Regions from separate parts of the Homo sapiens genome. Here all the other regions are linked to region 2. The links come from fine-mapping of genetic effects on gene expression. A gene starts in region 2. Each other region holds a variant in brackets. All regions are shown on one strand. Distances are between the middles of the regions. Region 1 overlaps UVSSA (UV stimulated scaffold protein A). Region 2 holds the start of UVSSA (UV stimulated scaffold protein A). Region 3 overlaps UVSSA (UV stimulated scaffold protein A). Region 4 overlaps MAEA (macrophage erythroblast attacher, E3 ubiquitin ligase). Region 5 has its middle 6.2 kb from the start of NKX1-1. Region 6 has its middle 15 kb from the start of NKX1-1.

What was found. PIP is the estimated chance that this variant, and not a neighbour inherited with it, causes the effect.
Region 1: its variant is the best candidate, but not a certain one, in a credible set for the expression of UVSSA in lung (GTEx, PIP 0.56).
Region 3: its variant is the best candidate, but not a certain one, in a credible set for the expression of UVSSA in sun-exposed skin (GTEx, PIP 0.71).
Region 4: its variant is the best candidate, but not a certain one, in a credible set for the expression of UVSSA in gastroesophageal junction (GTEx, PIP 0.59).
Region 5: its variant is the best candidate, but not a certain one, in a credible set for the expression of UVSSA in T cells (TOPMed, PIP 0.56).
Region 6: its variant is the best candidate, but not a certain one, in a credible set for the expression of UVSSA in monocytes (BLUEPRINT, PIP 0.90).

The regions. Positions count from the first base shown.
Region 1 is chr4:1,383,940-1,388,023 of GRCh38, forward strand. UVSSA (UV stimulated scaffold protein A) reads left to right here. Exons shown (of 14, transcript NM_020894.4): 13 at 1; 14 at 1,929-4,084. The coding sequence ends at 2,022. Among named protein-coding and RNA genes, the nearest start is that of NKX1-1, 20 kb to the right of the region's middle. The variant G/A (reference allele first, on the strand shown) is at 1,767.
Region 2 is chr4:1,345,188-1,349,287 of GRCh38, forward strand. It overlaps UVSSA (UV stimulated scaffold protein A), which reads left to right and starts at 2,021. Exons shown (of 14, transcript NM_020894.4): 1 at 2,021-2,573; 2 at 2,903-3,002. The coding sequence starts at 2,905. RefSeq lists enhancers at 1-261, 262-784, 2,630-2,709 and silencers at 1,080-1,169, 1,390-1,719, 1,960-2,399.
Region 3 is chr4:1,368,153-1,372,152 of GRCh38, forward strand. The region is part of intron 8 of UVSSA (UV stimulated scaffold protein A); the gene reads left to right. Among named protein-coding and RNA genes, the nearest start is that of UVSSA, 23 kb to the left of the region's middle. The variant C/T (reference allele first, on the strand shown) is at 1,889.
Region 4 is chr4:1,306,228-1,310,328 of GRCh38, forward strand. The region is part of intron 1 of MAEA (macrophage erythroblast attacher, E3 ubiquitin ligase); the gene reads left to right. Among named protein-coding and RNA genes, the nearest start is that of MAEA, 18 kb to the left of the region's middle. RefSeq lists enhancers at 1,791-2,688, 3,586-4,101. The variant C/T (reference allele first, on the strand shown) is at 2,337.
Region 5 is chr4:1,398,197-1,402,297 of GRCh38, forward strand. No RefSeq gene overlaps it. Among named protein-coding and RNA genes, the nearest start is that of NKX1-1, 6.2 kb to the right of the region's middle. The variant C/T (reference allele first, on the strand shown) is at 2,047.
Region 6 is chr4:1,389,549-1,393,649 of GRCh38, forward strand. It overlaps a transcript of UVSSA not described here. Among named protein-coding and RNA genes, the nearest start is that of NKX1-1, 15 kb to the right of the region's middle. The variant A/G (reference allele first, on the strand shown) is at 2,165.

The sequences.
Region 1 (4,084 bases), 39 kb after region 2:
AGTAAGAGTGGCTGCTGGGTCACCTCCCACCGCGTGGCCCCCCCGTGTGAGGGTGTTCGAGGGGGGCCATCTGAGCGCCAAGATATTCCAGGGACTTGGGGCCTCCAGGGGCTCCCCTGCTTTGAGTTCCCCTGGGGGACCACCCAGCCTTTCCCCGGGGAGGGGCAGTGCCAGCCAGCAGGGGCAGCAGGCAGGTCTGCTCAGGAACGCCCCCCAGCATTCCCCAGGATAAGAGGGGCTCGACCGCCAGGCACCGCCATCCTCGCTTCCTGGGGGAGCCATGCCAGGACACAGGCCTTGGCTGGTGCAGAGTGAGCCCCTCGTCTCTCCCTTGCCTGGCTGTACCCCCAGGTCAGTGCCTGCGTATTTCTGCAGCGGTGACTTCAGGGAGGGCGATGACTGCAAAGGCGGGCAGAACGGGGGTCCACGCGTCAGCCCCAGCAGAGCCCAGCCCCAGCATGTCTTCTCTGAGCACTGGCTCTGGGAGGCTGGCCTGGTGTCTCTGCAGCCCAGCATGGGCCTGTGTGACTGGTGAGGACTTGGCAGGGCCAGAGTGCGAAGCCCACCAGCCCGGCGTCCCTGCGTGCAGTCTGTCAGCTGGGGCACCAGCCACTCGCACGGCCTTGTGTTTCTGTCTTCATATTGCCTTGTTCTCGCCTAAGAAAATCCAGAATGCTTGTTTAGAAGCCACCTGAGGCTGTTGACTCCCTCCCAAATCTGTGTCAAGTCCCTGCTGGTGCAGGTTTGTCTGGTAGCACCAGTGAGGTGGCCCCCACCCATCGCCATCCCAGAAACCCTCCCTTGGACACACCTGGAAGGTGCTAAGTGCACCGGGCAGAGGAGGCCCCTCCTGGCCAGCATGACCGTGCACCGGCCTGAGTGGGCTCGGGTGGGAGGCGCCTTCACAGCACTCAGACCAGGCTTCCCCCAGGCTTGTGGGTGGTACATCCACAGCCTTGCTTGGGTGGGGCAGGGGCGCTGGTGGGGGCTGTGGAGAGGCTGCCTGGGGCCCCTGGCACAGGGCTGGACCCATCCCGTATGCCAGCCACCCAAGGCACCTTAGCCCTTGGAGCTCAGGGTGAGGCTGTTTTCCCGTGGATCAGCCAGGGGCAGAGGCCAGCCTTGGTGCTGATGCCCAGGAGGAGGAATGGCCAGTGGGCCCATGCCAGGCCTCCTCCCTGTGTCTCATGGGGACACTGAAGCCCATGGCAGGAGCTGGCTCTTCGCCACAGCTGTGTGGCCCAGACCCCTCCCTACAGAAAGGATCTGGGGTGACCACAGGCAAAACCCTGCCTCGAGGGGCCCCCACAGCAGCGCCTGGCAGCCCCACAGGGGCCGCAGCTGAGCGGCAGCTTCACCACATTGTGGCCTCAGGCCCTGCTGGCTCCACAGCTCCACACCCTCGTGGGTCGCAGCAGCTGAGCTGGTCAGCACAGCACACCTCATCCTGCTCCCCGGAATGCCTGCCTGGCCCGTGCCCCCCCTGCTGCAGCCCTCCAGGTTTCCAGCCCTGGCCGTGGAGCCGTGCGTGCAGCAGCGGGCAGGGCTGTCCTGACGCCTCCTGGCTGCATCTCCTGCGAGGCCGCTCCCCGGGAGGCCAAGGGGGAGGCTGCCCTCATCCTGGAGTGCGGGAGGCCACGGGAGAAGTGCCAAGGTGGGGCTGGGGCCACCTTCACCGCGCAGAACCACCCGCCGCAGACTCCGCTTCTGGGACCTGGGGCGGCCCTTTCTAAGCCTGTCTGTCTCGGGCCAGGGCCAAGGGGCCC[G/A]TCGCCCATCTGTCTCTGAAGGTGGCACCCACAGGCAGTCTGTCAGTGTCCGAGGGCAGCAGTTGCCCCAGGACCAGTGCCTAACTTTGGTGATGCCGCCACTGGGAGCCCAGGCCCCTGGCGGAAGCCTCCCAGGTCACATCTTGCCTTGTTTCCCCACAGGGCAGCTGTGCGGAGGGTAGTGGCAGCCATGAACCGGATGGACCAGAAGAAGCACGAGAAGTTTTCAAACCAGTTTAACTACGCACTGAACTAGAGAGCGGGGCCCAGTGCACTGGCCATCAGCACTTTCTCCCTCTGCCAGTGTCTCAGGACAGCAGAGTGGGCGTGGGTCTGGGCAGTAACCATGCTTTGTCTATTACTGTGTTTGATGTAAAGAAATGGTGTGTTGCAATGCCCTGAAGGTACGGCCGCTCTGCTGCTACAGGGTTCGGCATCGTCTGGTGATGGGTCTGGCCTCGCAGAAGAGGCCCTCGGGCCTGGAGATGTGAACACAGGCAGCGACCCTGTTCCAGAGGGCTTCTGCGAGTCCTCGTGAGACCAGTGCTTGTCGTGGTGTGGGGTTCAGCACGGACGGAATGTGTGTGCAGCTCAGCCTTCAGAGCGTGCATTCCCCAGCCAGGAGGCGACCACTCAGAGGAACTCTGGGAAACCCACTTTTGTGCAAATGCTGTTTTTAACACAAACACAAAGGCTAGTGAACCGTTCAGTCATCTGCTTTCTGTTTCTGGATGTGCCTTTTCATACATGTGTCCTCTTGTCCCTGGCTTCTTACACTTGGCGTTGTTTTTAAGGTTTATCCATGCAGTTCCCCTCCAATGTATAAAACAAAGGAGGTGAAAACCTGTCCATGCGGAAGCTTGTGCACCCATGTTCACAGCAGCATTGGAGAAGGATACCGAACATCTTCTCGTGGGCTTACTGGCCATTTGTGTATCTCCTTTGGAGAGGAGTCTATTCAAACCTCTTGCCTATTTTTAATTGAATGATTTATCTTGAGTTGTAACAGTTGTTTTTTTTGTTTTTCCTTTTAGAGATGGGCTTTTGCTCTTACCCAGGCTGAGTGCAGTGGCAGAATCATAGCTCAGTGCAGCCTCAAACTCCTGGGCTCAAGCCATCCTTCCACGTCAGCCTCCCAGGTAGCTGGGACTACAGGCACACACCACAACACCTGGCTAATTTTTTAAATTTTTTGTAGAGATGAGGTCTCACTGTGTTGCCCACGGTGATCTCGAACTCCTAGCCTCAAGCGATCCTCCTGCTTCGGTCTCCCAAAGTGTTGGGATTACAGGCATGAGCCACCACTCCTGGCCAGGAGTTTATATGTATACTGTGGATACTAGATCCTCATGTGATTTGCAAAAACTTTATTTATTTATTTATTTATTTTTGAAATGGAATCTTGCTCTGTCGCCAGGCTGGAGTGCAATGGCGTGATCTCGGCTCACTGCAACTACCACCTCCTGGGTTCAAGCGATTCGCCTGCGTCAGCGTCCTGAGTAGCTGGGACTACAGGCGCGCACCACCACGCCCAGCTAATTTTTGTATTTTTAGTAGAGACGGGATTTCACTGTGTTGGCTGGGATGGTCTTGATCTCTTGACCTCGTGATCCACCCACCTCGGCCTCCCATAGTGCTGGGATTACAGGTGTGAGCCACCGCACTCAGCTGATTTGCAAAAACTTTCTTCCATACTGTTGTTTCACTTTCTGGATAGTGTCCTCTGAAGCACAAAAGTTAATTTTGATGAAGTACAGCAATTTATCTGTTTTTTTCTTTTGTTGCTTATGCTTTTGCTGTCACATTTCAGAAGCCATCACCTAATCCAAGATCACAGAGATTTACACCTAGTTTCTAATAAGCATTTTATAATTTCAGCTCTTATGTGTAGATCTTTGATCCATTGTGAATTAAGTTTTGTGTGTGGTGTAAGAGCCCACATTCTTTTGCATGTGGATATCCAGTTGTCCCAGCACCATTTGTTGAAAACATTATTTTTCCCCATTGAATTATCTTCGCACCATTATTGATAATCAGTTGACCAAAAATGTACAGGCTTATTTCTGGGCACTTGACTCTATTCCATTGACCTGTTTAACCTTATGCCAGTGCCACAGTGCCTTGATCAGTGCTGCTTTGTTGTGAGAAGTTTTACTTTGTTCTGCTTCAAGGCTGTTTTGACTCTTCTGCATCTCTTGCATTTCCAAATGAATTTTAGGATCCACTCATCAGTTTCTTCAAAAAAAAAAAAAAAGCAGCTGAGATTTTTGATAGGAATTACATTAAATCTAGAGATTGCTTTGGAATGTATTACCGTC
Region 2 (4,100 bases):
ATTGGCAGTGGCAATGAGGCAGTGGGACGTGCTCAGATCTGGATGTGTTCTGAAGGTAGGGCTGTCAGGATTTGCAAACCAAATGGGCATGGAGTGAGAGGAAGAGAGAAGCCCAAGTGAGTCAGATAATTGGTCCAAGCGAACAGAAGGATGCAGGGCAGGCCCAGGCACGGTGGCCCAGGCACGGTGGCTCACGCCTGTAATCCCAGCACTTTGGGAGGCCGAGGCGGGCGGATCACCTGAAGTCAGGAGTTCGAGACCAGCCTGACCAACATGGTGAAACCCCGTCTCTACTAAAAATTCAAAAATGAGCTGGGCGTGGTGGCGGGTGACTGTCATCCCAGCTACTCGGGAGGCTGAGGCAGGAGAATCGTTTGAACCCGGGAGGCGGAGGCTGCAGTGAACCGCGATCGTGCCACTGCACTCCAGCCTGGGTGACAAAGCGAGACTTTGTCTCAAAAAAAAAAAAAAAAAAAAAAAAAAAAAAGGCTGCAGGGCCATCAGCGGATACAGAGGGCAGTGGACGGGCAGCTTGGCTGTGCTGTTGAGCCTGAGGGCTGAGAGGACACCCCGGGGCAGTGTAAAGGAGACTGGACTTAGCAATTGGTAAGAAAAGTTGGATAAAGAGAGGGTTTTGTTAGTATGGGAGAAACGGCACCCTTTTATACTAATGAGAACTAGTAACAACAAAAAAAACCACGCTGTAGAAGACAGAGGGAAACTGCTGGATGGGTGCCTTGGAGGAAGCCACAGGCCGGGGATTGGATGCACAGGGCAAGGGGCGCTGAGGGAGGGTCTGGCTGCAGCTTGCTCAGTGAAGCAAGAGGCAGGGTGAGGAAGGGGTGAGGCGGAGGAGCGGCTCGGGGCTGGCTGCAAGCTAGGAGCTGGGAGCCACTGACGCCCAGGGACAGAAGCTGGTGCTGCAGAGAGGGGCGGCGCAGGGAGTCCCTCTTCTTTTCCTTTTTAAAATAATTGCTTTACTGAGATATAACTCACACATCCTGAAACCCACCCTGTAAAAACACGATTAACAGAGTTGTGAGCTACCACCACCGTAATGCAAGGGCACGCCCATCCCCCCGAAAAAGAAACCCCGGCCCGCCGCCGGCGGCCCCCGCCCTGCACCCAGCCCCGGGAGCCCAGTCGGGCGTCTGCTCTGCGTGGCCTGTGCCGGGCGCCCCGCGAGTGGGGTCCACACCACGCTCCTCCGAAGCCACGGTTTCCCAAGCGCGGTCTCCAGGTCCGTCCGTCCGCAGCCGACCTCGCACTCCCCTGCGTTCGAGGCTGCGGACTTCGGCGGCAGGACGGACGGCGCCTCTGCTTCTCATTCCGCCCAGGGCCAGCCCGGGCCCAGGGGTACCTGCTGTGCGTCTGGCGCCGAGGTGGGCCCCGAAGACCCCCAAGCCCGCCCAGGGATTCCCTTCCCGAGGCCGGAGCGGGGAGGCGCCGCGGGGTTCAGGGCGCCCTGCGCGGGGCGAGCTCGGGGGCGGGGGCCCGCGCCCGCCCGTCTGGGCGGTCCTCACCGGCCCTCTGCAGGTGAAGGGACCTGGCTGCGAGCCCGCGGGCGGGCGTGGCGTTGAGGCCCAGACCGGAACTTCCTTTCGGCCTCAGTTTCCCGGCCGGCCCCGCCCCCGGCGCCCGTACATGCGGCCCCTTTAAGGACTTTCTGCGCCCTCCCGCCTCTTTTTTCTCGTGCGTCCCCCTCCCCACCCCCGGCAGCCTGCCTCGCCCTCGCCGGGAGCGCGCCTACGTCACCGCGCAGACCTCGGCCGCGTCTTTGCGCCTGCGCCTCCTGGGCTGGGGTGAGCCATTGGCTGTCGAGCTCAGGGCACGTGCTAGGGGGCGGGGCCTTGACCGGAAAGGGTGGGGCAACGGCGAGAAAGGCCGCGTCGAGCGGTAGGTGCAGTCGTCGCTGTGGTGACCCCAGGTCCTGATGCGTCCGGCCCAGGGCCAGCCAATGGCGGTAGAGGTCTTGGGCACCTGACAAGAGGGGCGGTCCCCCCGCCGGAAGGGGCGGGGCGAGGCGAGCGGCCGCGTCAGCGGTAGGTGGGGCTGTGGTTACGCTGCCGGGCGGGGGTCGCGCCGGTTCGGTCCCCGGGGCTCTGCGGGCGCCGGGCAGAGACCTGCGGCCAGGGCGTGTCCCGTGTGCCCGAGAGCGCCGGCGGCGGGGCCGGAGGGCGGGCCCTGGGCCGAGTGACAGGCCGCAGCCCCCCGAGCACCGTCGAAGCCGGCGCGCCCGCCCGGTGCAGCCGCTGTGCGAGAGCGACCCCGCGGTCCAAGCCTCGCGTGGCCCTGCCGGGCCCCTTCTTTCCCCGAGTAGGGCGCAGCTTCCCAGCCTCCGCCCCGGCCTCGCCTGGCGCTTCCTTCCGGGTCCTTCGGCCTTTCCCTGGCGGTGCGGCAGGCCCTCGCCTCATCCCACCAGGCACGCCGCGGTGCTCGGCCCTGGGTATCCGGGCAGGCTGCCTCCGTTAGGGCCGCCCCTGCTCTCCGGACGCGACTTTTCATTGGTCTCAGAATTTCTTGGCTCCTCTTGGCCTCTGCAGCCTTGCTGGAGGCTGCCCTGCGGAATCTGAGTGAATAAGGGAAACAGCAACAGTCACGTTGGGGAAAAGCTGATTCGGACAGCGCCACTGGTTCCTTTAACGCACGACCCTCAATGCAGCGTCCCACACACGGGATTGTAGAGGTCCCGAGTTTAAGGTTCACTTTTAAAACTGCAATCACCGCCGTAAAGGCCTTGCTGGACACACATATTTCCCAGAGAGGCACCCACAGATGGACCCCAGCCTCAGGGTCCTCCCGGAGCTTTCGGTTTATAGTGGAACCCAGTAAACACGTTAATAACACCGAGAGCTATAAAATACAGATGGTGATATAGCATCTCTGCCTTACTTATTTCTAGATATGGATCAGAAACTTTCGAAGTTGGTAGAAGAGCTCACAACTTCAGGAGAACCCCGACTAAATCCTGAGAAAATGAAGGAACTGAAGAAAATTTGCAAGTATGTCTTAGGGTTCAGTAACAGTAACTGACTGGCCCACTGAGCCCAGGACACACACAGGGCCCTGCCCTCCTGCCCCCACCTGGGAGAGAACCACCCGAGGGACACACCCAGGACATTTTCTCGGGGCCCTGCAGTACCCGGCTCTGACGGGTGGTCATGTTCTGGGGTCGGGGCGTGTGGCGTTGGGGACCCCACTGCTCTGTGGTTGGTGCTTCTCTTCATTCCCATTTGTGTGGTCTGGAGCACATCCTGTAGGAGTTCTTGAGTGCACAAATGTGATTCAGAGAGAAACGTGCATCTTTTTCTTTGCTGCTGGACTTTTCGAAGGGAAAGAATAGAGCTTGCTGATGGGCGAGTTGGTCCATCGCCTTTAGGGTATGTCCACCTCTGTTCACTTCCTCCAAGGAAAACGCCGGAGGGGATCTCTGCCGTCACCCTCAGGCAGCCAGAGATTCATGGGGGAAGCAAAACTTCCCCTCGGAGGGTGGAGCATAAGTCGAGGACACTGATTATTCTGTATCCTGTGTTTGTAAAATGGCAGTTTATAGATTGTTTATACAGTGATGGAGTGTTGACATTTTGATAGAAAATTTCAGGTCAGGTTTTGTGGCCTGCGCCAGGAAATCGAATTCGCAATGGTTTATGTGGGGTCAGGAGCTGGGAATAGGAGCATTCAGGAGGGGCTGGGAGATGTCCCGAGCTCTAGGCCTTCCTTCCTTCCTGCAGCAGGAGGCACCCAGCTGAAACAGTGTGCGTGCTGGGCGGTGTGCGTTGTGCCAGGCGGTGTGTGTTTGTGCCGGGCGGTGTGCGTTGTGCCGGGCGGTGTGCGGTTTGTGCCAGGCGGTGTGTGTTTGTGCCGGGCGGTTGGCGTTTGTGCCGGGCGGTGGGCGTTTGTGCCGGGCGGTGTGTGTTGCGCTAGGTAACGTGTGTTTAAAGAGCCAGATGGTTTGTGTTTCAGGCTTTGCTGTAATGCCTCAGTTGTGAACACAGCTGTAGATGATGTAGGTGGATAGATGGGCGACGTTCCAATGACACTTTGTGAATGAACACCGACATTTGAAGTGTATATGATTTTCACATTTCACCAAGTATTTT
Region 3 (4,000 bases), 23 kb after region 2:
TCTCCCGGACCCCTCCTGGGCATCTTCAGAGTCTGGGAGCTGGCACTGACCCTTGGCCTGTAGTGTCACACATTTCCTGGCCTTGGGCCTCTGCACAGGCCTGTTATGATGGCTTCTGAACCTTTTCAGCAGAAGTTACACATCTTAGACGGGGTGACGTGTGGCGTCTCAAAAGCAGAAATCCACACTTTCCCTAAAACCTGACTTGTGGCTCTAAATTATCTGAAGCAAGGCCAGAAGCGAAACTCAAACGAGGTGACTTTCCCCAAAGAACAGAGCGGTCTCCTTTCATCAGAAGAGGTGAGGCTCCCCGGGCCTGTGGCCAAACACAACGGTGACAGCGCTCACTCGTCACCAGGCCTGGCCATCCCCTCCCCACTGAAGCCCAGGGGTCCTGAGCCCATCGACAATAGCGTCCAGCCAAGGGGGCCGAGCGGCCTCGCAGCCCCTGCCGGGTGTGCTGGGACGCCTGCTCTGACACAGCCCTGCTGCAGGTACACCGAGCCTCACAGGGTCACAGGTAGGCACTGGGCTTGGCAGTCCCGGCTAAGCCTCACCCGTAGGCTGTCCCAGCCTGACCCTGGTTGTGAAGGCACCTCCAGATGTGTGTCTCCAGCTCAGGCCCCAGGCTCAGCAGATGATGAGCTGTCCCTGCTGGGTCCGTCCTGGTCCAGGGAAGTGTGCACAGCTGGTGCACTGGCGGCTGGTTCTTTCGCTGCAGCCGCAGGTCCCCACAGCGCCCTCCTCTGCTGGCTCCAAGCCTCCTCCACTGCATGGCGCCTGCCCCTTTCCTCTCAAGGCCCACGCCTGCCCCGGTGGAGGGGAGGGTGCCTTAGACCTGCCCCGGTGGAGGGGAGGGTGCCTTAGAAGCTGGGAGCTCCATCACAGCCTTGCCTGGGGCAGGCAGAGGCCCTGGTGGTTTTATTGCCACTGATTGACTTCTTGAGGTGAGAGGGCTAACCACGTTCTGCCGTTCTGCCGTTCTGCCGTCAGCCTTGAAGGTGCCGATGTGCCCTGTGGGCCTGGCCTGGGTACCCTTGGCGGCCTTGCTGGGAGTCGACCGGGTGCGAGCATGCAGCACCAGCTGTACCAGCCCCAGGCGAGGGCTGGAGGGCCCAAAGGAGGGGGCAGGCCCTGGTGACAGAGCTGCCCTCTGGGGTGCGCAGGGAGGACCCCTGGCCCCACTCAGCTTCACACCCCGGGGGCCCCAGGAGTGCCGGAGGCGGGGACCAGGCGGGAAGCGTGGGGGCAGGCGGAGGGGCCAGCTCAGTTCATAACACTAGTTTATATTCTGCCGCTGTTTTTTCAATTAAACGTGGGCGAATCTGAAGTAGTTAGATTTAGTCTAAATCCACACCACGGAGGAAACCGTGCTCTTTTTCTTTCTCATTTCTTCCTCTGAATTTTCACTGAGGGGCCTTTATCTTCCCCTTAATCCTACCATTTCTGTCAGGACATAATCTCTTTCTCCAATTTACATTTTAATTACAAGGCCAGCTGAACTAGGTAAAATCAATAATGTCAGCGCTGGGCAGGCCGCCTGGGCGCAGAGGCCCCCCTCTCCGTTTCCTACCATCGATTCCCTCCCTCACTGTCTGCTTTGGTGCTTCAGGCAAATAGGTGCCACTTGGCCAATGTAAACAGAAAAGGGGATTTGGACATTTTTATGATTCTTTCTCAAAACAACTGTGGGAGTGAATTTGAGCCAAGATACTGGACTCGAGTGAGACGCCGTGCGGGCAAGGCGGGCGCCGCGTTCGGCTGTGACGTGTGGCCTCTTGTTTTCCGGGAGTCGTTATTCTTCCTGAAAATGCCCTCAGTGCCTGAGGAATGCTGTCTGATTTTTGGGGTTTTGCTTTGAAAGTATGTCAGAGAGATTGATTTTCCA[C/T]GCGATGCGCAAGTGGGAGTGTGTTTAGTGCCCTAAGTATTTACCCTGCTTTAACACGCTTACCCATCTTTTTAATGGTTTAAAACAACAAATCGATGAAAAATATATTTCATTCTTGTAACTCTTAGGAATTCTCAGATTGATCTTTTGGCTGCGATTGTATCTAAATGTCACATTGTTCACTTGTCAGTCTTGCCTCCGTCACTGTGAGCATGTGCGTGTGTGCGTGTGTGTGCATGCGTGTGCTGACAGCCCGTATCTGTGTCATGTGTATTGCCGGAATACTGAGGGGCACTTGGCAGGTTTGTGAGCAACACCCGGGACACGGCATTGAGTGCCAGCGCTGAGCAGGGGCTGCCCGGTGTCTCCCGGGTGCGCGCCTCGGGGCTGGAGGTCCGTCCCCATCACCTGCTCTGTGTGGCTCTGTCTCACACCCTCCGCTTTCAGCCCCTGGGAACCCAGGAAACGGGAGCAGCCTGGCAGGCGTGCAGCCGTGCACGGCTTAGAGGAGCTCCCGAGCGGGACAGGCACCTTCTGTGAAGGGCCAGAGCGCAGTCTCTCCAGCTTCGGGGGCCACATGAGGCCTTGTCTCCACGTGTAGATGGTGGGTGTGACTGGGTGCCAGTAACACCCTATTCACGAAAACAGGCGGTGGGCTGGACTTGGCTCATAGCCACAGGCTGGCGAGCCCTGCAGCTACTGAGCACAGGGTGCATGTGCCAGGCTGACCTCTGTCCAGAGAGTCAGTGGCCCAAGTCAGAGGTGGCTCCAGACAGCCCGAGTTCTGTGAGCCCTTTCAGACATGCAGCTTTTTCCTCCTCTGCAACTCAGGGACGGGGTCGGTGGCTCACTCCTTGATTCACGGGATGCTTGTCATGGGCCTGAGCAAGGCCCTTTGTCCTTACCCACTTCCCTCCCTGGAAGCCCCTGTGCCCGGCGGCCTTGCAGTACCCCCAGTTCTCATGCCTCCTCATTCTCCTCCCAGCTCTTCTCTCCAAACAGAGCATTCCCGGCTCTGCACATTGGTAAGTGGAGGCACTGTGGGTGTCCTCAGAAAGCCTGTGGTGAGCACATGTGTGTTCAGTGACAGCATGCCTGTAAGTACTTGTGTGTGGACGTGTATGTGTGTGTATGTACTCAGTAAGCCTGCACAAAAGAAGGCCTGCACGCTCTGCAGCTCACCCGTGTTCAGTGAGAGTACGTCTGTGGGTGGACCTGTGTGTGTGTGTGTGTGTGTGTGTGTGTGTGTGTAAAATCGATGACGTGTACATGACTTTCCGGGTGTCTGAGCTCTCTGGTGGCCTCTGTTTTTGACGCTCTGTTCTGTGGTCTCAGGACACAGTCTGGGCGGTGCTGATTCTTGGGAGGTGACTGAGGCCCCTGTTGACTTAGTACTTGGTTTTCTTTCGTCAGTTCCGCGTGTGTGTTGGAGAAGGGACTTCTTGCATAGTGTATTACTCCGTTTTCCTGCTGCTGATAAGGACATACCTGAGACTGGGCAATTTACAGAAGAAAGAGGTTTACTGGACTTAGCGTTCCACATGGCTGGGGAGGCCTCACAATCATGGTGGAAGGCAAGAAGGAGCAAGTCACATCTTAACGTGGATGGCAGCAGGCAGGGAGAGGGCTTGTGCGGAGAAACTCCCGCTTTTACAGCCGTCAGATCTCGTGAGACCCATTCACTCTCACGGGGACAGCACGGGGAAGACCCACCAGCTCCCTCCCACCACGTGTGGGAATTATGGGAACTATAAGATGAGATTTGAGTGGGGACACAGAGCCAGACCATATCAGATAGGAAATCTCACGGCATCTCTTAGTTTGGTGGTTTTGACTGTGCTGTACAAACCACCCGTGATACGGCTCATTCTTTCCCTAACAGCCACTTCCCAAGAGGGTTCGCCGAAGTCCCCACAGTCAGGGATACCTCTGCACCCGTAGCCCTCAGCATGGCTTCTTATGTTTTGAGACTGCATTTGTAAGTTACATATCTCTTCTTGTTTATTACACCTTCAAGCATTCCTTTTTTTACCCTCCTATTTTTTACTTAAAATCCAGCTTTTCTAGTACCCACATAGGACCTCCTCTGTCTTTTGGTCACTGTTTTCGTAG
Region 4 (4,101 bases), 39 kb before region 2:
CGCTTTCCGCTGTGGTCTAATTTGCATTTCCCTGATGACTCATGATGTTGCACGTCTTCCTGGAGATTACCTGCCCTTCATAGAACTTCTCTGTGATGTTCCTGTTCAAACCTTTTCCCCATTAAAAAAATGGGATTGCTAACCGGGCGAGGTGGCAGGCACCTGTAGTCCTAGCTACTCAGGAGGCTGAGGCAGGACAATCACTTGATCCCGGGAGGCGGAGGTTGCAGTGAGCCGAGATCACGCTATTGCACTCCAGCCTGGGTGATGGAGTGAGACTGTGTCTCAAGAAAAAAGAAAAGAAAAGTGGGTTGGGGGGCTTGCTTGTCGTAATACTGAGGCTGCAGGAGTTGGCTGTATTCCAGATGGAAGCCCTTTGTCAGCTGTGCTGTGAAGGCCTTCTCCCAGTCCATGGCTCGTGTTCTTAACTTTCTTACATTGTTTTCTGAAGAGCAGAAGTTTTAATTTTGATAAGGTTCAGAGGATGGATTTTTCTTTTACAGTTGGTACATTTTGTATCCTTCTAAGAAATTGTTGCCTGTCTCAAGGATGCAAAGATTTTCTCCCTTGTTTCCTTCTAAGGAGTTTCACAGTTTGAGCTTTTGTGTTTAGGTCCGTGATCCATTCGGAGGCACTTTTCATGGGATGTGAGGTTTGGGTTGAGGGCCATCCCTTCCCTGTCCTGGCTGTTGCAGAGACTGTCCTTCGCCTCAGTTGCCTTGGCCCCTTGGCTGTATGTAAATGGACCCTGCCTGTGGGTCTTTTTCTGGGTTCCCCACCCTGTATTGACCCCTGCATCCATTCCTAGACCAGTGCTGTACTGGCTTCAGCACTCTAGCTTTATGAGAAGTCTGGCAGTCAGGTGCCATTTATCAAAATTCATTAGAATTTTTGTTAACATTTTTTAATTTAAAAAGATACTGTTATATATGTATACAATTTGCCATCAACCATTTTATACAGCAACCACTTTATCCATTTATAGCGTAGACACCGTTCCGTAAGCACACAGTACAGTCATACCATCTATATCACCATGACCCTCTCATCTTGCAAACCGGAAACTCCATAGCCATTGAACAAAACTGCCTCCTCCCCACCCCAGCCCCTGGGATCCACCATTCTGCTTTATGTGTCTAAGAGTTGGACTGTGTGAGATACCTCATACAAGCAGAGTTAGCAGATTTGTCTTTTCATGGTTGACTTATTTCACTTAGCATAATGTCTTCAAGGTTCACCCATGTTACAGTGAGTGAGAGGATTGCCTTCTTTTAAAAGGCTGAATACTGTTCCACTGTGTATTGTGTTACTTGTCCCCAGGGGGACGGAACTCATAATATATAGAGGTAGATGAGGGGATTTATTGGGGAACTGGCTTGTGTGATTACAGAGGCTGAGTCCCGCAGCAGACCTGCACCCCAGAGACCCTGGGAAGCTGGTGCGTGGCTCAGTCCAAAGCCAAAGGCCTGAGAACCCTGGGGGGATGCTGGTGTAAGTCCCAACATCCAAAGGCCAGAGACCCTGGAGTTCTGATGCCAAAGGGCAGGATCCCAGCTCCAGGAGGGACAGGAAATTGCTTATCCTCTGACTTTCTTGTTCTGTCTGGGCCCCAGCGGACTGGATGGCACCACCTACCTGGAGGACATCTTCCCACTCACCCACCAGTCTCCTCTGGAAACACCCGCACAGGCACACCCAGAAGTAATGCTTCACAGGTTCTCTAGGTATCCCAAATCCCATCAAGTTGATGCCTGAAATGAACCATTACCTGTGCAGATACGGTCATGTGTCACTTACATGGAAAAACTCTCAGAAATGCATCGTTAGGCGACTTTGCGGTGTGAACATCGTGGAATGAACTAACAGGAGCCAGATGGTGTGGCTGCTGCACGCCCGCACCGTGGTACAGCCTGTGGCTCCTGGGCTGCAAACCTGTACAGCATGTCACTGCACTGAATACTGCAGGCAGCTGTTCCACGGTGGTGTTTTGCATGGAACACATCGAAACATAGAAAAGGTGCAGTGAGAATGCAGTATCCTAATCTTAATGGGACCACTATCACCTGCACGGTCTGTTGTTGACCAAAATGTCGTTATGTGGTGTGTGACTGCCACGTTTTCTTTCTTCATTCCCCTGGTGATGGACATGTGGGTGGCTTCTGCCTCGTGGCTGCCATGAACACAGGTGTGCAGATACCTCCTGGGACCCTGCCTTCAGTTCTCGTGGCCTACTGGGGACTCAGGAGCCTTGTGCCTAACGTTCTGAGGAATTGCCTCGCTGCTCTACACGCTGCGCCGGGCACGTTCCCTGGCACTGCACGCGTGTCCCGCTGCTC[C/T]GCTTCCTGCCGTGGCATAGCTTTCGGTGTTGAGTGATCGCCGTCCTAACGGGCACGAGGTGATGCCTCACGTCTGCACTTGTGTCTCCTGAGCAGTGGTTGGTCGTGTGGAGCATCTTGTCATGTGCCGCTTGGCCATTGGTTTATCTTCTCTGTACAAGTGTCTAAGTCCTTCACCCATTTTAAAATTGGATATTTCCTTTGGTTGTGGAGTTGTAGGCGTTTTTAAAAGTGCATTCTGGATAGTAGCTCCATATGCAGATCCCTGGGTTGCAGCTATTTTTTCCCATTTTTTACTCTGTTGGTTTTTCCTGCTCTGCAGTTTTTAAGTTTGATGTAGTCCCATTTGTCTCTTTCTGTTGCCTGTGCTATTAGGAATCTATTTTTAATGCTTTGCCCCTTTTCACTGTTCTTCCTATGATACGGTCTGTGAGGTTGCCTGTCCTCATTTGGGCGAGCTGTATCTTCTGCGGGCTCATCTCTGCAGTGCTGTTTCTTGTGTCTTAGAATCTGCTGGCCCCTCTCTGCATTGCTGTTTCTTGTGTCTTACATTGTCTTTGTCCACGGATTTATTGTGTTTGATCACTAAGCAATATTTCTGAGTAGTTTTTCTGCCAGGAAGGTTTGTGTGTGCTCAGCTTTCAGCCCTTGCGTATCTGAAAGTAACTTCAGTTTGTCCTCATTCTTGAGTGATAATTTGGCTCGAGTTAGAGTCTTTAGCATTTCTGAAATTCCACTCACTCGGTCACCAAATGCCCTTTAAGGAGCCTGTGAAGGGGCTCTTGCTAACCAGCCAGCCCAGGCCAGTGGAGGGGAGCTTTTAGGGCCCGGAGTCACGTGCTGAGTCCCCCGGAAGAGGAGGCGGTGCTTTCCGGGGCTGGCCTGGCTCCTCTGGGGGGCGTGGATGTGGGGAGGAGCTGCTGTCTGGGTCAGCAGCTGCCCTGCTGGAGGGAGAGGGGGTGCTGCGCTCATCCCCTGAACTCAGATTGGATAGCCCCGGGCCAGCGCTGGAGGAGGAGCAGAGGCAGGGAGGTGGGAGGAGCGTGCGCAGAGGCGTGGGAGGCCTGAGGAGTAAGCGGCTGGATGTGGACCCTGAGAGCCACTGGCAGGGAGGTGGGGTCTTCCAGTTGTGAAGACACCGTGGCCCCGGTGAGCCCCTCCCCGGCCTCCTTCATGCCTGCGTTCTGCGTAACCGTGGCGCGTTCTGGGCAGGGCCTTTTCCCTTGCACTGGGAGCAAAGGGTTCCTGTCTGCAGCACACCAGCTGCCCGGAGCTCTGCCCTGTGCCTGAGCAGCGTCAGCACCGCGGTGAGGCGGACGGCCCGGCAGGGGTTGGAAAGTCCAGAAAGGCCCCGTTCCCGCGTAGAACTTGAATGCAGCTAAGGGACGTCCAGAGAGGCCTTTCCTTTTCTGGTGGCGGTCTGGAATGTGCTGGTGTGCGGATGCTGTGTGGGTTCCTCCGCGCGAGCGAGGGTGGTTGTGCCGCTTTGTCTAATGGTCTAATGGCGAAGACTTTCTGTCCTGCTCTTGTGAGGCGCCTGCACAGGCAGAGCAAAGACTGAGTATATGCCTTGCGTCCTTTAGAAATTCCACCTCGTGGCAGGACACACTCAGATAGGGTCTCCAGTGGGAGAGTCCTGCAGGCCGGTGTCGGGCTGTGGTGTCAGGGCCTCGGGGGGGCCTTCCCCAGTGGGTCTCGTTGAGCTCGCTTGCACTGGTCAGGTATTTATGGAGAGCTGAAGTGCTGTCTGCTGTGACTTCCCATC
Region 5 (4,101 bases), 53 kb after region 2:
GATCAGGTTGGATGCCGGGTGTTTTCGGGCATCTGGATGTGGGTAGATCAGGTTGGATGCAGGGTGTTTTCGGGCATCTGGATGTGAGTAGATCAGGTTGGATGCCGGGTGTTTTCGGGCATCTGGATGTGGGTAGATCAGGTTGGATGCAGGGTGTTTTCGGGCATCTGGATGTGAGTAGATCAGGTTGGATGCCGGGTGTTTTCGGGCATCTGGATGTGGGTAGATCAGGTTGGATGCCGGGTGTTTTCGGGCATCTGGATGTGGGTAGATCAGGTTGGATGCCGGGTGTTTTCGGGCATCTGGATGTGGGTAGATCAGGTTGGATGCAGGGTGTTTTCGGGCATCTGGATGTGAGTAGATCAGGTTGGATGCCGGGTGTTTTCGGGCATCTGGATGTGGGTAGATCAGGTTGGATGCAGGGTGTTTTCGGGCATCTGGATATGGGTAGATTGGGTTGGATGTGGGGAGGGTGCTTGGTGCCTGGGGTTTGCTCTGAGGCTGTGGGGCTGGCTTGGTCTGGGAGGAGCTTGGTCTGGCTTTGTGGTGCCTGGAGGGCCCCTGGCCCCCGGGGGGACATCGCAGGGCAAGGACAGGGCGAGGCACACCATTACCAGGACACTGCGGGGCAAGGACAGGGAGAAGCACACCATTGCCAGGACATCGCGGGGCAAGGACAGGGCCAGGCACACCATTGCCATGGCAGGAAGGCAAGTGGAGGATGAGGGTTCCCCAAGCCCAGGCTGCCCAGGACTCGGAGCAGGAGGAACCAGCCACCAAGTGAGCAGGGGGCTGAGGAGGCCACGCCAGGATGGGGCAGCCAAGGGCCCGAGTGACGGCGAGAGCCTCCTTAGGGGTGGAGAAGTGAGGAGGAAGTGTAGACAGCAGGTGTAGACGGCTCTTTCGATACTTTGGCTGGAGGCTGGGAGGAAAGGGGGAGAGCTGGAGGCCACACGGGGTCCAGGGAGGGTTATGCCTAAGCCTGGAGACACTGGACGCATCTGAAGCCCAGCAGGGGCTGTCTCCCCTGGCAGGACGCAGGCAGGTGACAAGATCCTATGGCTGGAAGATGGGCTTGGACCTGTGGCCAACCCAGGGTGGGGTTATGGAGAGGGTACACCAGACACCTTAGGGTGTAGGAGCTGGGTGCCCACCAAGGTCGAGGCCCTGGGCTTCGGAAAAGACCAGGCGGGCTGAGGGCGACTTTCTTCAGAAGCCCAGCTGCCTGGGGCTGGGGGTGTGGGCAGGTGGGCATGGGTGGGGAGCACAGGGGGGCTCGGCAGGGGCAGCCGGTGGCCCCAATCCATCCTCACCTTTCACTAGGAGTGAGATGCCTGGGGGGAGACTGCACTTCCCAGCCTCCCTTGGCTAAGAGAGGGCCCGTGACCCAGCTCTGGCCAATGGGACATAAGCAGCTGTGTTGTGTGGGCTTCCGGGAAAGCTCCTTAAAAGAGAGGGGTGTTGCTGGCCACTCCCTTTCTTCCTGTTTGCAGCCGGGGGTGAGGATGTGGTGGCTGGAGCCTCAGTTTCCATTGGGTTCTGTGAGGCTGAGGCCCGTCCAGGCCTGATGCAGCACAGAGAGCCAGGAGCTGGGTCTCCAAGGACTCAGTGAAGGTCTCAAAACTGCCCAGGGCTGCCACGGCCAGAATTCCCTCACAAAGAGAAAGTAAACAGTCTCCTTTCAACTCTCTTCATTCAGGTTTTCTCTTACACGCAGCCAAACCCAGGCCTGACCCACACAGCAATGGACCACAGCACCATCGGCTGGTGGGGGTGGGGAGGTGGCCTCAATGGGAGGCCCCTTACCGTCTGGGCTCAGCGGTCCCTGGGCAGGAGACGGGAGCCCAGGGCGTGAGAGCAAACGCCGCCCTTGTCTGGGCTCATGCTCGCTTGACAAGAGGCCCCTTCTGTGCCTGGCTTTGCAGCAACGACATGTGTGTGGTTCTGGGAACTTGGGGCAGGTGTGGTCCAGGGCAAGATGGGTCCTGAGCCCTAGGAGGAGGGTCCATGGAAGAGTGCCCTCAGATCCTGAGGTTGAGACCTTCC[C/T]TCACGGCCCTGACACCAAAGTGGGGGACACGTTGAGACCCCTAACAAGGCTCCCGCTCACCTCTGCCTGCAGCACAGGCCCAGGGAGCTGAAACTGAGTCAGGCACAGGCAGCCTAGACTGGAAATGGCGGGCAGGGGAGGCCCAAACCTGGTGGAAATGGGGGTGGTGGGGCAGCCCGAGGGCTCCCTGGGAGGCAGGCAAGGGAATGGCTCCCCAACTCTCCCAGGGAGACTGGGGGCCTGGGGACCCAGTAGGAGTGTGGGCTAAAAAGTGGAGGCTCCTTCAGGAGGGAGCAGGGCACCCACTGGCACCAGAGCTGGCACTGCCCCCAGCAAGCCCCATGACTGCCGGGCCTCAGTTTCCCACATGTGACTCTCAGCAAAGCACAGTGGGAGGCTCAGGTGGCTTTGCACGCAGTCCGACTCCGACGAGGGTCCGCTGCAGAGTGACTGTGAATCAGAGACTGGAGGAAATGCCCCCCATGCCTGCAGCATGAGGCTGTGGGCTGTCCAGGGAGCTTAGAGAAGGGGTGGTGCAAGGAGGGGGGTATTGCTTCCCAGACCTCACAGCCCCCGGCCCATACCCTCCATCCCATCCTGCAGCCCAGGGGCACTGCTAGAGGGCCCTCCGGTGTGGCTCTGTGTTTCTGGCTGAGGCTTGAGGGGAGGAGACAGAGGAGGCCAGGGTGGGGGCATGTGGAAGCTGGAGGGACGGGGAGCCAGGATCTAAGCTCCATGGGAGGGCTGCACACAGCGGTCTGGCCCGGCTCTGAGTGGGTCTGAATCTGGCCTGCACCGTCGCAGCCACCTTCTATCATCTCCCTGTGGGGCTGTGAGCTCCTGGAATGTTCCAGCAAGCTCAGCAAAGGGGAAGGCCCTTGCAGCACAGACCTGGGTTCCTCCTGGCCACGCAGCAGCTGCTTTCCCACTCAGCAGCCCCAGTGCCCAGCTTAGGCCAAGCCCGCTGCACTGGCTTCAGCTGTGAGTCGACCCTCTGGCTACACTTGGCCACCTGCAGGTGGCTCGCCTTCCCTCATGGACCCCCACCGAGCAAGTCTGAGCTCTGCCAGCGGAGGGAGGAGGGAGGAGGGAGGAGGGAGGAGGGAGAGGCTGCCCTGCCCCCGGGCTGGTGAGCCTCAGGACGCTTGCTGCAGGCAGGTGACTTCACCTATGCGGACCCAGAAAGGGAGCAGAGAGCAACTGGGAGTCAGGCCGGCCCTTGGCTGGAGGAACCAAGGCCTGCCTGGGGCTTGGGGTGTGGGGGCAGCAAACACACAGGGTGATCCCAGCCGCCCCTGCGCCCCGCCCCCTCAACCTGCCCGATGGCCGGTGCTGCTCTGGGCCTGCTCTCTGTCCACAGGTGCTGGCCAGGCCAGTGGGCAGCAGTGTCTCCCATCTTGCCTGTGGCACTGGGTATTCACTGCCGCCACCTGCCCCCAGCCCTCCCCCAGTGGTTGCTGTCAGGTTGACAGCCCAGAGATGAGCTCAGCCCACTCACGGAAAATGGACAGGACACCAGGAGACTGGGCCCAGTCAGGGCACAGCCGCCAGGCAGAGCCAAGCTCCCTCTGTGAGGCAGGACTCAGGACTCCCGCCAGTGGCAGAAGAGGGGCAGCACCTGCCCGGCTGTGGCCAGTGTCTCATGCCGCCTCCCCACCCTTTCTGGGGCTCTGAACCCTCCTCCCGTCGCCCTTCCCCGCTTCCAAGCACCAGCTTTTGCATCCACACTGCCGCCCAGCCCAAGCGCCTCTGCCTCTCACCTCCCTGAGCCCAGCTCAGGCGAACACCAAACCCACAGGACTCCGAGAGCCTGTGAGGGGATGTAGGGACTGTTTCCAGCGTCGTTGGAGGAGAGGTGGCAGCTCCAAGAGGGAGCACTCGACCCGACTTTTGGGGGCCTGGGTCTGAATGGGCTGGGACGCTCTTGGGCAGGTAGCTGAGCCCAGGCAGCCCCTTCTCCCCGGGGAAAACAGGCAGGCGCTTCTTCCTCCAGGCAGTAGCCGAAGCTGACACCGCCCCCAAGCTGACACGCCTAGCCCGGTGCTCCCTTGCGG
Region 6 (4,101 bases), 44 kb after region 2:
GCTTATTTTTGGTAGAGATGGGGTCTCACTATGTTGGCTAGGCTGGTCTCAAACTCCTGGCCTCAAGAAATTTTCCTGTCTTAGCCTAGCAAAGTGCTGGGATTACAGGCATGAGCCACCACACCCAGCCCTAATTTTCTTTAAAATTTTTTTGTGGAGACAGGATCTTGCTGTGTTGTCCAGGCTGATCTTTGTCAAACTCCTGGCCTCAAGTGACCCTCCCACCTTGACCTCTCAAAGTGCTGGGATTGTGGATGTTAGCCAATGCTCCCAGCCTATTCATAGTATTTTCTGGTTTTAGTAATTTGATTCTTCTCTCTTTTACTCCCCTTAGTCTAGCTAAAGATTTATCAATTTTGTTGATCTATTTAAAGAAACAACTTCTGGTTTTGTTTATTATCCCCTATGATTTTCCATTCTTTATTTTGTTAATTTCCACTGTAATCTTTATTATTTCCTTTGGGTTGCTTTGGGTTTTATTTTCTCTTCTTTTTCTTGTTTCTTAAGATGGAAAATTAGCTTACTGATTTGAAATCTTTTTCATATAGACATTTGTAGCTATAAATTTTTATCTCAGCACTGATTTACTTCATCCCTTAAGTTCTGCTATATTGTGTTTTCCCTTTTTTAAATCTAAAAGTATATTCTGATTTTTCTGGTGATTTCTTCTTTTATCTCTTGGTTATTTAAGAGTTTGTTGTTTAATTTCCACATATATGTGAATTTCCCAGGTTTCCTTCTGTTATTGACTTCTTTTCTTATTTTTGAGAGACAAGATCTCACTTTATCTCCCAGGCTGGAGTGCAGTGCAGTGATCGCAGCTCACTGCAGCCTTGACCTCCCACCTCAGCCTCCTGAGTAGCTGAGACTACAGGCATGAGCCACCAAGCCTGGCTAAATTTTTAAAAATTTTGTTGTAGAGACAGGGTCCGACTATGTTGCCCAGGCTGTGTTGGAACTCCTGGGCTCAAGTGATCCTGCCACTTTTGCCTCCCAAAGTGCTGGGATTACAAGCATGAGCTACCATACCTGGCCTGTTACTGATTTCTTATTTCACTCCATTATGGCTAAAAAACATAGATTGTATGATTTCTCGTCTTTTATATGTATTGAGAGTTATTTTATTGGCATACCGTATTTTCTGTCCCAGAGTGTTGAAGAATATCTATCCTGCTCTTGTTGGGTGGAGTGTTGTATAGATGCCTGTTGGGTCTGATTGGTTTGTAGTGTTGTATAGACACCTGTTGGGTCAGAGGTTGGTTTGTAGTGTTGTATAGATGCCTGTTGGGTCTGATTGGTTTGTAGTGTTGTATAGATGCCTGTTGGGTCAGAGGTTGGTTTGTAGTGTTGTATAGATGCCTGTTGGGTCTGATTGGTTTGTAGTGTTGTATAGATGCCTGTTGGGTCTGATTGGTTTGTAGAGTTGTATAGATGTGTGTTGGGTCTCATTGGTTTGTAGTGTTGCATAGAAGCCTGTTGGGTCAGAGGTTGGTTTGTAGTGTTGTATAGATGCCTGCTGGGTCTGATTGGTTTGTAGGGTTGTATAGATGCATGTTGGGTCTGATTGGTTTGTAGTGTTATATGGATGCCTGTTGGGTCTGATTGGTTTCTAGTGTTGTATAGATGCCTGTTGGGTCAGAGGTTGGTTTGTAGTGTTGTATAGATGCCTGTTGGGTCAGAGGTTGGTGTGTGTGTTGTATAGATGCCTGTTGGGTCAGAGGTTGGTTTGTAGTGTTGTATAGAAGCCTGTTGGGTCTGATTGGTTTGTAGTGTTGTATAGAAGCCTGTTAGGTCTGATTGGTTTGTAGTCTGATTGTTTATGTCTTCTCTTCCCTTATTGATCTTCTGCCCAGTTATATTGATATTGAATGTGAGGTATTGAATCCTTCAGTTTTGTCAGCTTTTGTTTCATAAATTTTGAAGCTCTGTTAAGTGCATCTGTATTTCTATTTCTTTCTGATGAACAGACCCTTTTATCATTATGACATGTCCTTCTTTGTCTTTAGTGAAAAAAAAATGTCTTTAAGTCCCTTTTGTATGTTATTAGTATAGCCACTTAGCTCTTTTTTGATTATTGTTTGCATGGTATCTTTTTTCACCCTTTAACTTTCATTGTATCTCTGAATCTAAAGTGTGTTTCTTGTAAACAGCATATAGTGGGATC[A/G]TGTTTCTTATCTGTCCTGCTGGTCTCTGCCGTGAATCTAAAGTGTGTTTCTTGTAAACAGCATATAGTAGGATAGTGTTTCTCATCTGTCTTTCTGGTCTCTGCTCTGAATCAAAAGTGTGTTTCTTGTAGACAGCACATAGTGGGATCATGTTTTTCATCTGTCCTGCTGGTCTCTGCTGTTTGAGAGGGATGTTTAATCCATTTACATTCAGTGTGATTACTGAGAAAGTTGGATTTGTATCTGCCATTTCTAAATTTGTTTACTATATTGTCTTTTTTGTCTTTCTTCCTTTATTTCTCCATTACTTTTTTGTGTTAAATGGACATTTAATTCTCTTGTAACATTGTAATTTCCTTGTCTGTTTTACTGGGTTTTTTTAAAAGTAACTTTCTTAGCAGCTGCTCTGAGTATTACAGTAACAACGTAAAACCAATCAAGTGTTCAGATGAACTTAATATAATGTACAAAAACCTTCACTTCAAGTAGCTTTGTTTCCTCTCAGCTTCTTGGTGCTGTATTTGTCATATAAATGCTACCTTTTAGATTGTAAGTCCGTCAGCAGTCTTGTAATTATTGCTTTATGCAGTTGTCTTTTAAATCACATAGAAGAAGAAAAGATGTACAAACAGAAATGAGTTTCTGCTGTCTCTGTTGCTGGCTTTGCAGTTGTCTTTTTTGGTGCTCTTTGTGTGGATTTGAGTGTGGTGTCTTGGACTTCAGCCTCAAGTATTTCTTGTAGGACAGATCTTCTAGCAATGAATTCTCTTTGTTTTTGTTTATCTGAGAATGTTGTAATTTTTCCTTCTCTTCTGAAGAATAATTGTGCTGGATATGGCTGACTTGGTTGGCCCTCTTTTTCTTTCAGTCCTCTATAGATGTCATTCCACTGCCTCTGGCATCTGTGGTTTCCATGGCGGGAGCACCGCACCATGTCTCAGTCTCTTTTTAGCTTCTGACTGTTTGACTGTGGTGTGTCTAATTGTGGATCTTTCAGTGTGTCCTACCTGCAGTTCTTTGAGCTTCTTGGATATAGAGGTTAATATTTCTTGTAGTCTGATTGTTTACATCTTCTCTTCACTTATTGATCTTCTGCCTAGTTATATTGATATTGAATGTGGGTATTGAATCCTTCGGTTTTGTCAGCTTCATGTTCAGCCAGTGACTGGACAGGGGACCCCTTTAAGTGCTTTGCACCAGTAACTCTCATGGTTCTGCTGACACACAGTTGATGTGTGGTGAGTATGCCTTCAGCGCTCCATTGTGGTTCTGCAAATTTGGGAAATTTTAGGTTGTCGTTTCTCGAAATATTTTATGTCCATGTTCTCTTCCCCCACTTGGACTCCAGCTACGTGTGTTGATGTGGAGCTGGGCACAGCCTTGGAGGCCTCCTTGACTTTCCTTTATTCCGGAATTTTTTCTTCTTCTCAGAATGGGTCATCTCAGTTGACCTATCTTCAAGGTCACAGATGCTTTTGCCAAACAAAACCTGATGTCAAGCTGCTCTAGTGAATTTTTCATTTCAGTTATTGTACTTTTCTACTCCAAACTTCCATTTGGCTCTCTCCTATAATTTCTGTATCTTTACTCATATTCTTTGTTTAGTGAAACATTCTCATACTTTAATTCTGTAGACACAGTTTCCTTTAGTTATTTGAACATATGTGTAGAAGCTGATTTAAAGTACTTGTCTAAGCCGGGCGTGGTGGTGTGCACCTGTAATCCCAGCTACTTGGGAGGCAGAGGCAGGAGAATTGCTTGAACCCGGGAGGCAGAGGTTGCAGTGAGCCAGGATCAAGCCATTGTACTCCAGCCTGGGCCACAGAGCGAGACGCTTTCAAAACTAGATAGATAGATAGATTAGATAGATAGATAGATAGATAGATAGATAGATAGATAGATAGGATAAGATAAGATAGATAGGTGACTTGTCTAC